Homo sapiens: one gene and its partners. The protein of the gene in region 4 interacts with the protein of the main gene of each other region in a pairwise test. Each region holds a gene or a part of one and is shown on either strand. Other genes may lie near its edges.

The links.
Region 1: the proteins of TGFBR2 (region 4) and KEL interact in binary tests that used the Homo sapiens proteins (3 or more experiments, as listed by UniProt).
Region 2: the proteins of TGFBR2 (region 4) and RHBDD2 interact in binary tests that used the Homo sapiens proteins (3 or more experiments, as listed by UniProt).
Region 3: the proteins of TGFBR2 (region 4) and WT1 interact in binary tests that used the Homo sapiens proteins (3 or more experiments, as listed by UniProt).

What each region holds. Positions count from the first base shown.
Region 1 is NC_000007.14:142,942,989-142,945,363, reverse strand, and holds part of KEL (kell blood group glycoprotein), read left to right. Parts: intron 1-622; coding exon 623-721; intron 722-963; coding exon 964-1,041; intron 1,042-1,480; coding exon 1,481-1,581; intron 1,582-1,767; coding exon 1,768-1,878; intron 1,879-2,020; coding exon 2,021-2,088; intron 2,089-2,319; coding exon 2,320-2,375. UniProt on the Homo sapiens protein: Zinc endopeptidase with endothelin-3-converting enzyme activity. Cleaves EDN1, EDN2 and EDN3, with a marked preference for EDN3.
Region 2 is NC_000007.14:75,885,534-75,889,033, reverse strand, and holds the end of RHBDD2 (rhomboid domain-containing protein 2), read right to left. Parts: intron 1,043-3,500; coding exon 685-1,042; 3' UTR 108-684; downstream 1-107.
Region 3 is NC_000011.10:32,415,040-32,418,539, reverse strand, and holds part of WT1 (Wilms tumor protein), read left to right. Parts: intron 1-885; coding exon 886-963; exon of another isoform or gene 964-1,116; intron 1,117-1,999; coding exon 2,000-2,050; intron 2,051-3,500. UniProt on the Homo sapiens protein: Transcription factor that plays an important role in cellular development and cell survival. Recognizes and binds to the DNA sequence 5'-GCG(T/G)GGGCG-3'. Regulates the expression of numerous target genes, including EPO.
Region 4 is NC_000003.12:30,686,601-30,690,100, reverse strand, and holds part of TGFBR2 (TGF-beta receptor type-2 isoform B precursor), read right to left. Parts: intron 1,718-3,500; coding exon 1,590-1,717; intron 1-1,589. UniProt on the Homo sapiens protein: Transmembrane serine/threonine kinase forming with the TGF-beta type I serine/threonine kinase receptor, TGFBR1, the non-promiscuous receptor for the TGF-beta cytokines TGFB1, TGFB2 and TGFB3.

The sequences.
Region 1 (2,375 bases), on a different chromosome or scaffold from region 4:
AGTCACACAGTTACCAAAAAGCAGAGACAGGGTTTGAACTCAGGCATTCTGATGCCAGAGCCCAGGCTCTCGATATTGCCTTTCATTTTCCTCCAGGAAAGGATTTACATGAGATGGCAGGTGGCTGGGGAAGCAGTGAGTACACACTCACGTTGTGAAGGCAGGGAGACTTGTGGGGGACTTGCTGGGAAGCTGAAGAGCTCAGGAGGATGAGGAGAGGGAGTGGACGGTTTAAAAAAGACAGTGTGAGAACAAGAGCCCTGAGCCAGAGGAGAAAATGACAGCCCTCTCCTCCCTCTGATTTCTGAGAGGTGTTCCTGCCCCCAGGAGTGAGGACACTGTCTTTCTCCTGTGTCAGGCTATTTCCCCATGGAAAGGAACTATATCTCCCTGATGGCCCTCACGGATGGCCAGGCCCCACCTTCCCTTTGTGGGCTTGGCACTGCCTTCCTTTCTCCACAGATCCTTTAGTTGCTTTAGTTGAGCTGCTCCTCTAGCAGCAGCTCCAGCCCAGGCAGCTCCTTGGGGCCAAGCCCTTTTCCAAGGGTCAGAAGCTGTGGGCAGGGCCAGGCTGAGGCCTCTCCTGATCCTGTCCCCCTGTCCCTGGACCTCACTCCCACAGGCCATGAAATTATTCACTGCGATCCGGGATGCCCTCATCACTCGCCTCAGAAACCTTCCCTGGATGAATGAGGAGACCCAGAACATGGCCCAGGACAAGGTCAGGCCAGGCGTCCTGGCTGGTGTGGGAGCCTGTGCAGGGAATGGAGTATTGGAACAAGCGAGATGGGGATTGGAAGCAAATGCCAAAGGCCCCCCCAGGCACATGCTAAGTAGGGAAGCCACTGGGCTGTATACTCACACTGGCAACAATGTGAGAGGCTGGGACAGGGCAACGAGTGGGAGAAATTTCCTCTGGTAGACTCGGAGAGTATTCCTAGCCTCTTCTGTGTCTCTCTCCAGGTTGCTCAACTGCAGGTGGAGATGGGGGCTTCAGAATGGGCCCTGAAGCCAGAGCTGGCCCGACAAGAATACAACGATGTGGGTCCCTGTGTTTTCCAGCTCCTTTTCAGTCCTTGACTTCTCGTCACTTCTCTGACCCTCCTAAGTCTTTGTTGGACAATCAGTTTTCCCTGGGTGACTTAGCTCTGTCCTTACTCTGGTGCTGGCTGGGGTTGATGGGGAAATATCCACACTGTACGTCTTGCTGGCAGAAGAACAGAATCTTTTCAGGTCCCAACGCATGTGCCAACACACATGCATGCATCCTGTGACTTGTCTGGGCGTGTTCATCTGTGTGCTGATATGTGTAAAGCCTGGGTGTGCTGTGTAGTGATGCCATTGGGCTGCTCTCTCCTAATCCCTGGATGCCTGCCTGTCAGGGCTTGCCTGTTTGGGGTCAAATGGTCCCATTGGTGTTTGTCAGCGTGCATCTATAGAAGTCTCTGTGTGCCCAAGTCACCTCCTGCCTCTTCCCCAGATACAGCTTGGATCGAGCTTCCTGCAGTCTGTCCTGAGCTGTGTCCGGTCCCTCCGAGCTAGAATTGTCCAGAGCTTCTTGCAGCCTCACCCCCAACACAGGTATGACAGCAGGGGAGACACAGGCACTCCATCCCAGAGAGACCCATCCATGATTCACAGGAAAGGAAGCCAGGGCTCAGGGCAGGCAGCATGAACAGTAATGGTAGTTGGGAGGGACTGTGTAGGTCTCAGGGTGGCAGGGCAATACGTGGTGGGGGCTGGAGTTCACATGTCCTCTTCCCACAGGTGGAAGGTGTCCCCTTGGGACGTCAATGCTTACTATTCGGTATCTGACCATGTGGTAGTCTTTCCAGCTGGACTCCTCCAACCCCCATTCTTCCACCCTGGCTATCCCAGGTATGGGTCACTCTGTAAGGGTAGGTAGGGAGTTTCCCAAGAGGGGCCGACAGGTGTTATGATGGATGGGACTTACGGTTGGAGAATTGGGGTCACAAATGCTGAGAGATTCTGGGGGTCAAATAAGCCCTTGTCTCCCTAGAGCCGTGAACTTTGGCGCTGCTGGCAGCATCATGGCCCACGAGCTGTTGCACATCTTCTACCAGCTCTGTGGGTAACAGGGGCCACTGGGAGGTGGGATAATAGGGAACCTAAGGGAAGACCACAAGGGAGGCCTGGAGGGGAAAGGGAGGTTATTTGAGGGTTTGAGGTGGGGCAGTCCTGGGAACTTTGCCATGCTCCTGGGAGCTGATTCAGTCTGTGGTACCACCCACATCCTCACCTAGGCAGCACCAACCCTATGTTCTCTTGCTGTATGTTCTCTTGTCCCATTTTCAACAGTACTGCCTGGGGGCTGCCTCGCCTGTGACAACCATGCCCTCCAGGAAGCTCACCTG
Region 2 (3,500 bases), on a different chromosome or scaffold from region 4:
CTGGTGCATCTCTCCTCTCTGCCGCCACACCACACATTGCCACTGCCCAGATCTCAGCGCACTCCCTCTTCCCCAGCCAGACCACAAAGGAAGCACACGCCAGCACGGCAGGTCAGAGGCTGTTTCTTTATACAAAGGCAGACAACATGGACACCTCAGCATGCTGCTGCAGTTCATGGGGGCCCATCCCACCGCTTCTGGGGAGAGGAATCGGGGTGGGGGCGCCCGCAGCAGGGGAGAGACACTACACAGGCCTGGGACCGCCAAGCACACCAGCTGCGAGCTCCTGAAGGGCAGACACATGGACACACGGACACTGAAACCACGAGCACGGCACAGCCACAGGGAGGAATGGTGGAGCTGGGGACAGACATCGGCAGCTACTGCCAACTGCTGCCCTCTTCTGCCACGAGTTCCTTGGCGAGGAGCCTTGTCCGTGTTACTAAAGAGCCACGTGACTTTATCTGATGGCAGAACGTCTCGCTTTCTGCATCTGTAAGCTGGGCCAGTACACCGTACTCCACAGGGCTGCCGTGAGTACAGATGAGACTGAAACAGGGGCATTGATCAAAGTACCCAACACAGAGCCTGGCACATAGAGGTGTTCAATAAGTAACTTTTGTCAGGAGACTCTTAGGGAGGACCTTCAGAAGGCCAAGTGAGATGACTTCCCTAGAAATTCTCTCAGGGCATGGGGACCCTGGAGGACTCCTTGGAGCCTGCAGCCCCTGGTGTGCCCAAGGCCCCAGAATACACCGTGCCAGGGCTGTTCACAGGCGTGGGGGGCTGGATGCCCAGGGAGGTGCCCGCAGAAGCTGGGTAGACACTGGAGGAGGTGGGGTTTGGACCAAAGTGGTTCTGCACATAGCACAGGCCGGAGGCAGGCTGGTACGGAGGCAAGGTGGGCATGTGCCCGGGGGTGCAGGAGGGCCAGGAGGCCAGCTTCTGACCACTGGCGTGCTGCGTCTGGGACACAGGGTGGCTTGGGGACAGGTGAGGGTGGCAGCTCTGTGTGGGGTAGGAGCCAGGCACCGGGTTCAGTCTGGAATGGAACAAGAGAGAAAATGGTCCTTCAGCGAGTCTTGGCAAGGTCATGGCATCTTGTGCTTGAGGTTGCCCCCGCTTTCTAGTACAACATGCCTTGGATGTTTTCTGTGACTTGCTCTAAGTACCAAGTGGGAGAAAGGTTAACCTCAACCAATCAGACCACAGATGCCCAGGGAGGGTGGGGCCAGTTGCAGTCCTGCAGCAAGGGAGTTGTATGAAAGGACACTGGACCTGCCACTGAGACCACCGGAGGGGTGACCTGCTCACAGCAGCTTCTAAACCAGATGGAGCGTTGGGACCAGGTCACAGCTGCCAGTGCCTGTGTGGCTGGCTCGACAATTCTGCCCAAAGAGAACGGATTCAGGCTGGGCATGGTGGCTCACACCTGCAATCCCAGCACTTTGGGAGGCCAAGGCGGGTGGATCATCTGAGGTCAGGAGTTCGAGACTAGCCTGGCCAACATGATGAAACCCGGTCTCTACTAAAAATTAAAAAAAAAAAATTAGCCAGGTGTGGTGGCAGGCGCCTGTAGTCCCAGCTACTCAGAAGGCTGAGGCAGGAGAATCGCTTGAACCTGGGAGGCAGAGGTTGCAGTGAGCCAAGATTGTGCCACTGCACTCCAGCCTGGGTGACAGAGCAAGACTCTGTCTCAAAAAAAAAAATTGTTTTTTTTTTTTTTTAATTAGCCAGGTCTGGTGGCATATGCTTCTAGTCCCAGGTACTTAAGAGGCTGAGGTAGGAGGACTGCTTAAACCCAGAAGTTTGAGGCTGCAGTGAGTTATGACTGTGCCACTGCACTCCAGCCTAGGCAACAGAGCAAGACCATGTGTAAAAAAAAAAAAAAAAAAAAAATTATCTATCAACAAGAGCCTCTGAGGAGACAAGCTGTCCAAACGGCCATCTTGCTGACAAAATAAACATGCGTGTCATGACATGGCCCTGGACCCACTGTCAGGCTGCCTGAAACACAATATTCTGAGTGTCTGCAGCAGGCACCAGACCTGAGGGACTGGACTCCATGTCACGTGGGGAACACAGAAGGAACACCATCTTCCTCTTAAACCCTAAGATCTGCCTGTCACAGTGAGGCAGGATCAGACCTGGCACTGGGTGTGGCAGTGTCTGTGAGGCTGATTGCAATTCAGCATGGAAGAACTCTTTTTTTTTTTTTTTGAGACGGAGTCTCGCTCTTTTGCCCAGGCTGGAGTGCAGTGGCGCGATCTCGGCTCACTGCAAGCTCCACCTCCCAGGTTCACACCATTCTCCTGGCTCAGCCTCCCGAGTAGCTGGGACTACAGGTGCCCACCACCGCACATGGCCAATTTTTTGTATTTTTAGTAGAGATGGGGTTTCACCGTGTTAGCCAGGATGGTCTCGATCTCCTGATCTCGTGATCCACCCGCATCAGCCTCCCAAAGTGCTGGGATTACAGGTGTGAGCCACCGCGCCCGGCCCTTCAGCATGGAAGAACTTTCTCATCAGGGCCAGTCTTGGAGAGTGAGCTCTTGTATGTGAGATACAGCTGGAGACCACCATCAGCTATTACAGAGGGGATTCCTTGGTGACAGACAGTTCTCCAGATTCAATGAGAACAACTAAAACCCACAAAACACCTAGTCCTAAATGTACAGTCTCCCCCACATTGAGACCCCAGGAATTACTTGCCTGAAGCAATAATGCGGTGAGTCCGCATTTCTGTTTTCCCAGCAGCCCTCCTGGCCTTTTAGAAAAATAGTCCAAGGGCTCTGAGCTGTTGACAGCTGGGAGCACCTCTTGGAAGAAGCTCTAAGGGCAGCTTCCTATTCAACAAAAACCCCACATCCAGGCCAGCGTGCAGGGGAAAATTTACTCCACAGCTGGTGGCGGGCCAAAAAGGGCCAAGGACCAAGCACCTTGCCTTCTGATACACTTTGGATGTTTCCTCTGCTCCAAATCATGTGCTGAAATGGATCTTTAGCCGGGTATAGTGGCACGCGCCTATAATTCCAAGTACTTGGGAGGCTGAGACAGGAGAATCACTTGAACCCAGGAGGTGGAGGTTGCAGTGAGCTGAGATCACGCCACTGCACTCCAGCCTGGGCCACAGAGTGAGACTCCATTTCAAAAAAAAAGAAACGTGATTCCCAGTGTTCCAGCACTAGAGGTGGAGCTCAGTGGGAGGCGTCTGGGTCACGGGGGCAGACCTTGCGTGAGTGGCTTGGCTTCTTCCCCGTAGTAATGAGTTCTCCCTCTGAGTTTAGGTAAGAGCTGGGTGTTTAAGAGCCCAGCACCTCCCTCCCTCTCTCAATGTGTGGTGCCGCCTCCCCTTGCCCTATGATTGGAAGCTGCCTGAGGCCGGTGCCATGATCCTAGTGTAGCCTACGAAGCCATGAGCCAAATAAACCTCTTTTCTTATAAATGACCCAGGCTCAGGTATTTCTTTATAGCAATACAAAATGGATGAACACGCCTTT
Region 3 (3,500 bases), on a different chromosome or scaffold from region 4:
AAAGTGTTTAGACCAAGAGGTCCCAGAAAAACTCTTGGTCTCTTGGGTCTCAAATTTCATAATTAACCATTTCAGTTCAGGCATAAATTTATTCCTGATGGAGCTTGGTAATTTAGGAGATTTCTGGCAATTGATTCATGTGCTAATTTTCTAGGAATGAGATAAATACAGAGGGGACAGAACAGCTTTTTGTTGGTTTACATAGCGGTGTAAGACTTCTTTGGAGTCTTAATGTAAATGATAAGCCATTTCCCTCATAGAGTCTTATAGAACTGGGCTCTTTTTTTTTTTTTTTAATTTGACTTGTACCAGGATTATAAAACATATAGAAAATGATTCCTTCCGCTGTGCATAGAGTTTATCATCGTCTTTCTTCTGCTTGTCACATCCTTGCTTTTTAGACCATTTATCACCCATCACTCTGACTTTTCAGACCCTCATAATCCACATGATACTTATCCTTTTGATTAAAACAACTTAATGGCCTTTTCACGAATAATTAATCTGCTGTCTTTACTTTCAGCTCCAGGCTTTTAACTTTAATGTTGAGTTATCCAGCCTGTGTTGCCTTTCAAAGTTTCACTCCCCTTAGCCTTTTCCCCTCAAAGGTTTAATACTTCTTTAGAAACTTCAATAGTTGCTATACAAAGGTTTTAAAAAATGCTTCTGAGTTACTCTCACATCCCTTCTGCTGTGTATGAAGTGTATAACTGTGCAGAGATCAGTGGGATGAAATGAAAATAATTCAGATTTGCATATTCTGTCATTCTGGAAAATGTGGAGGCTTGCACTTTCAAGAAAAGTTAAAACTCCATTGCTTTTGAAGAAACAGTTGTGTATTATTTTGTGGTTATGTGTTTCTAACTCTAGATGTTTTTCTAACAGTGACAATTTATACCAAATGACATCCCAGCTTGAATGCATGACCTGGAATCAGATGAACTTAGGAGCCACCTTAAAGGGGTAAGGTTTTCTCTATTCCATTGCCTTTCCACAGTAACTTATACCTGTTTGAACCATTTCAAAGGTGCTTAGAACTTATGAAGAAAGTACAGTTTTAGAAGAAAGGGCAAAGCTCTCTGTGACATTAGAACGCTTTCCTCCTTCCCCTAGTTGGTGAGTTGTGTTCAGTATTAAATTTTCAAAAACATAAATGTGGGTTGTTTCTATCTGGAACAAGGAATATTGAGGACACTTATTATGGTCTTGTTGAATGTTTTATAATTCTTCAAAGGCTATTCAACCTCATTTAATAATTGTGTTTTACTATGATATCACAGTTGTTAACCATTCCACTATCTTATCAAGAAGTGCTTTGGGTGTGCAAAGTCCGGGATCCAAATTTGTATTTGTGTGATGCTGATCTGGGCAATTCACAGTCAGATACGCCCATACCTGATTGCACCAACAGGGTTTTTCTTTCCATACTTGATAATACAACCATAATAGGGAGAATACAGCCAGGAAACATCAGAAGGAGCTACTCTTTGCACCTAAAAATGAAAAAATAAAAAAAAGAAGGCAGGTGGGACTTGCTTTCACCATTGAAAGAGCTCACTTTTCATTTTCTACCAAGTGTGAAGAGATGGGCAGTAGCATAGAACACTCATGAAGTGCCTGCAGCGTGTCAGGTGTCCTTCCAGGTTACCTCATCTTATCTTCCCAACACTCTCATGAGAGCTAAGTACTGCTTGGTTTACAGATAAGTAAACCAAGCTCAGAGGGTTAAGTTACTTCCCAGGTTCACATCCTACTAAGTGCTAGAGCTGGGATGCCAAGTCCAGATCTGATTCCAAAGCCCAAGCTCTTTGCAGCCTCCGGTGGTGCCTTCCACCCCACCATTGGCCCCAGTGGGACTGGGGACTTAGTTCAGCACTCTTGATAGCTAGCTTGATGTCTCTGTGTATTGAGGGGCTTTTCACTGGATTCTGGGATCTGGGGGGCTTGCCAGATCCATGCATGCTCCATTCCCCACTCCCCACCTCTTCTTCTTTTCTAGAGTTGCTGCTGGGAGCTCCAGCTCAGTGAAATGGACAGAAGGGCAGAGCAAGTGAGTGGACAATGCGGAGATGGCAAAGCAAATGGCGTAGGCCTTGCTGACTGGCACCTGGGGCAATGCAGGAGTTAGGACTGACGTGGGTAATCAGGGTAGCATTTGGTGGATGGGAAGAATCTCTCTCCCCCGCCCCCACCTCTTCTTATTCATCATACACATGCTGGGGACAAAATGGAGGGAGTAGCATTTCTCATCAACATGCCCCTGGAAAACAATGTAAAAAATTATGCAGCATCCTGTTCATTTCTTTGTGAATACTTCACAAAATACTAAATACTAAATTTGTGGCATTACAACCATAATGCCACATGTTCCTGTTAGATCAGTCAAAGCTTTCAGTCTTAACTTGCTTCTTCTTTATTTACCTTTAAATCTCTCAGGGAGAACTTACCCTAAGTCTGAGGCCAGGCTTTGAAAAGACTTGTTTTTTGTTGTTTTTCAAAGTTTGTTTTTATTCCCAAACATTCGCACCTTCCCCAGCCCTGTACCCTGCACCTTGGGGAATTTCTGTAGCTGTTTCTTTTTCTTCTCTCTGCTTTAACTCCACAACCAGCCGCCCTCTTTTCTTCTTTATTGTGTGGGCCCAGTCCTGTTATTTGGTTCATCCTTCAGTAATCAACAGAGTTGTATTTCATCTTCCAAGACTTACTGTTAGGTTCTTCACCTCACCCCCGCCCCCAAATTTTTCAGCAGTTTTATCCAGATCTCCTCTTCCTCTCTCTGGACCACAAAGAAAAGGCTTTCTGTTGTTTTAAATTATTTCTCTCCTGTCTTCCATCTGGGGGACTGCTGACAGTTTTAGCATTCTGTCTTTCTACCCATTCTCTTTTCTTTTTGAGACGGAGTTTAGCTCTTGTCGCCCAGGCTGGAGTGCAATGGTGCCATCTCGCTCACCGCAACCTCCACCTCCCGGGTTCAAGCGATTCTCCTGCCTCAGCCTCCCCAGTAGCTGGGATTACAGGCATGTGCCACCACGCCCGGCTAATTTTGTATTTTTAGTAGAGATGGGGTTTCTCCATGTTGGTCAGTCTGGTGTCAAACTCCCGACCTCAGGTGATCCGCCCACCTTGATCTCCCGAAGTGCTGGGATTACAGGCGTGAGCCACCGTGCCTGGCCTTTCTACCTGTTCTTAACTCGTCTTAAGTTCCTTGGCTTCTTGGTCCCACCCTTTCTTTCTGGCTCCCTTCCTTTTCTCCTTTCTCCTCTCCTCAGAACTTGATAACCTTCCCCAAGCTAAATAGCAAGGATAGACAGAACATGATTGTGAAGTGAGCAGTACATTTCAGTTTCAAAAACTTCTTCATGCTGTAATACAGGGGCTTGTTTGTTCAGTTACAAAAATTACAGATAAGGAATTTGGCATGTATTTGCAGCTGGATATTTCCATGGTTAAGATAATTTCGATACTTTTTAAGGTCTTTAGACATGTACTGTTAGTCACTT
Region 4 (3,500 bases):
TTTTCTAATACCAACAACTTTCCAAACACACCTAGGAGCCTATCTCTCCCTCCCCACCCGATGAGTTCATGATGTTAAATTAATTGCATAATTCACCTAATTGACAGTATTGACAGATGGCCCTGTTAAGAGTAGAGTGCTATTGTTGGTACACAAGTAACATTTATTTTATTCTGGCACTGTAATTACAGGCAGTAAATTAAATTAAATATTAAGCATTAACTTGAAATCAATAGGGCAACAAATCTCATTATGAGAAAAAATGTATTATGCAAATTCTTTTCAGAATTTTATCATCATGAATAATGGCATCATTACGAGAACTATACAGCAGAGGAGGCAACAGAGTTTGAAAGAAACATAACACTCCAGCACATTCTGATTTCAGAATTTATGCAAAATATTCTTACAGTTTTAGTGTCAAAGAGGATTTGCTCAAAACTCCAGAGAAGCCTGTGACCCACCACAGCCTGGTTCCCCCTCGCCAACCTCCTCGGACTTTATTAAGGTCTGTCTGCTGAAGTGGCTCTGGGCCAGGACTGGCACAGACCAGACTTCCTGCTCCATTTGTCTTCCCGATTGTGCCTGATTTGTTGTTTCTGTTTCTTATCTGAATTTGCCTTGCCCTTAGGGAAACCAACAACTTAGCCTCGGCCTTCATGGTTGAGGGAATTCATCCAAAAGAGGCAATAAAAGGTTTTAGTCAGTAGAAAGAACAGTCTTCTCAGTGAGATAGGGCCACACTGTTCTCTCTCATTCTTCACTAAGGGCTCCTTCCTGGGTGTGTCAGACATATAGCTGGTTCTGACTCACTCACAACCTATCGTTTTCTTTTTTCTCTGACCATTGCCCTCATCAAAGTGCCCCCAAACAAACAATTTGGATCAGCCTCTTTATGAGTCCAGAATGACTGCCCTGCTATGGACAGCCTTAGCTAGCATTTCTTAACAAGGAAAAATAAGAGGCCATTAGGATGTTCCCAACAGACAGATTTCTCGTTCCTTCCAGGGCATTCTCCTCTTCTTTGCTTTCCTTAATTCCAGAGTGAGGAGTCGGTCTCCTCTTTCCCACGCGTGCTCACTCAGGCCTCTCCCAAGTCTGTGAGCACAGCCTGCAAACACCTGTACACAGCCTTCTGCATGCCACAGTCACTTCTCACTACAGCTGCCTGACAAACCCTGCTTGTTTTGCATCTGCTAAGTATTTCCTTATGGAGCTGAAGATTCCCAGAAGAAAACATTTGGAATCCAGAGGGAATCAAATATAAACTCCTGACGTGAAGGCCCAGGAGTAAGTAGCAGAGGCTGCAAACAAAATGTTTTAACCCAGGACCAAGGGGGCTTGGAAAATGTGGCAAATGTCCTCCGAATGGCTATTTGTGAACTCTCAGAGTACATATCAGCTGGTTGGAGCCTATAATAATTGGGTTATCCACTGTATTGAAATTTGCTTTATAAACAAAATTTAACAGGGCCATAGAACACAATGGGACCTTCCCTCAGATTTAAGCTCAATATTCCAGAATTCTCTGCCACCTAAGAGGCAACTTGGTTGAATCTTACTGACCTTTGTAAACACTCACTCCTTACCTGGTGGTTGAGCCAGAAGCTGGGAATTTCTGGTCGCCCTCGATCTCTCAACACGTTGTCCTTCATGCTTTCGACACAGGGGTGCTCCCGCACCTTGGAACCAAATGGAGGCTCATAATCTTTTACTTCTGTGAAGAAAGCCAGCAAACACAGGGTCACTGAGAATGGCATGTGCAGCCAAAGGAAATGAGCATGGTGAGATGCCTGGCTGGGGAGCATGAAGCACTAAGTAACAAATACATACGTAATTACTCTAAGAGCAAATTTTAATAATAATGGCTAAGATAAGAAGGAAGGAGTGGTTGGGGAAGGGCTAGAGAAGTATTCAATAAATGATTGTTGAGTACTTAAAATGTGCTAGGTGTTACGCTGGGGGACACAGTGGACAACAAGATAGAGAGGGTCACGGAGCTTAGGTTTTAACACAGGCATTTTCTACAGGGGGATATTGCAGCAAAAGGGTGAAACTGGTTCTTGGGAAGTGGAAAAATCTTATGTATTACAATGGTTTGTGAGCCTCCAAAGGCCCAGAGTATACAAAGAGATTTAAAATGTGGTATTAAATTTCATGTAGGTATTGAGGCATAAAAAGGAATGAAACTCTGGCACATGCTACAACATGGATGAATCTTGAAGACATTATGCTAAGTGAAATAAGCCAGACACAAAAGGACAAATATTGTATCATTCCACTTGTATGAAGTACCTTGTACAGGTATATTCAGAGACAGTATAATGGTGGTTGTCCAGGGGGCAACCTGGGAGGAAAGGGTACGAAAAGTTATCCTTTAAGGGGTAAAGAATTTCAGTTGAGCAAATTTCAGTACAGAAAAATGAATAATGGTGATGGTTGTAGAGCACTGCGAAGGTACTTAATGCCAGTAAACTGTACACTTAAAAATGGTTAAGATGGTACATTTTATATTATGCCTATTTTGCTACAGAAAAACATCATGGAGAGTAGTGTTTAGAAAAAAAGTTGTCTACAGGCCAGGTGCTGTGGCTCATGTGTGTAATCCCAGCACTTTAGGAGGCTGAAGGAGGATATCTTGACTCCGGGAGTTTGAGACCAACCTGGGCAACATAGCGAGATCCTCTATCTATACAAAATAAAAAACAAAACAAGCAAACAAAAAAAGTTGTTTAAAAAGGCTCCTTACGATATCACTGATTTTAAAAAAGGTTGAGAAATGCTGTTTTAGTGGGAAGACAGAGGGGACAGATTAACAACATCAACAAAATTTTAAAACGATAATTTTCCTCTGATGGTATATTCAATAAAGAAAATGATAAAGGAGGAGGTAACCCTTCACCGGGGCCTCAGGCTTCAACTAAGGTCAAATTCTTTATAAAAACTTCCTTGAACATCCTTAGGGTCAATCTTGGTTAGATATCCTGGGCAGGGCTCTATTCGTGCATATACCATATTTTATTTAATATATTCACCTGCTTATTTTTCTCACCTAACTGGACTGTGAGCATTTGGGTGCAAGTTGAGTCCCTTTCTCATTCTTGTATTCTTGGTGCCAATTGCAAGGGTCTCCCATGCCAACAGGCTGTCAACAAATGCTTTGTTGAGTGAGTGAATGAATGAATGAATGAATGAATCTTAGATTCTCTCCAAAGTGGCAGTGCATAAACTCTGGCCAAACATTAAAACAAAACACCAATTTAAATGAGCAGATTAATATAGTGTAAACAGAGCACAGGACACTTAAAAAGATAGAAAACATCCCAGTACTAAAACATGCCTGGGCTGAAAGGAGAGATTGGGCTGGATTCAACACTGTTCTCCAAAGTAAGTAGGATCTTTGGCCTTTAGCTTCAAAATAATCTTATTTAATGAGTAAAACTTTCAATACATTTGCACTTCTAGGTAACGAATTGAAGAAGCTTTCATGGCAAGATGAC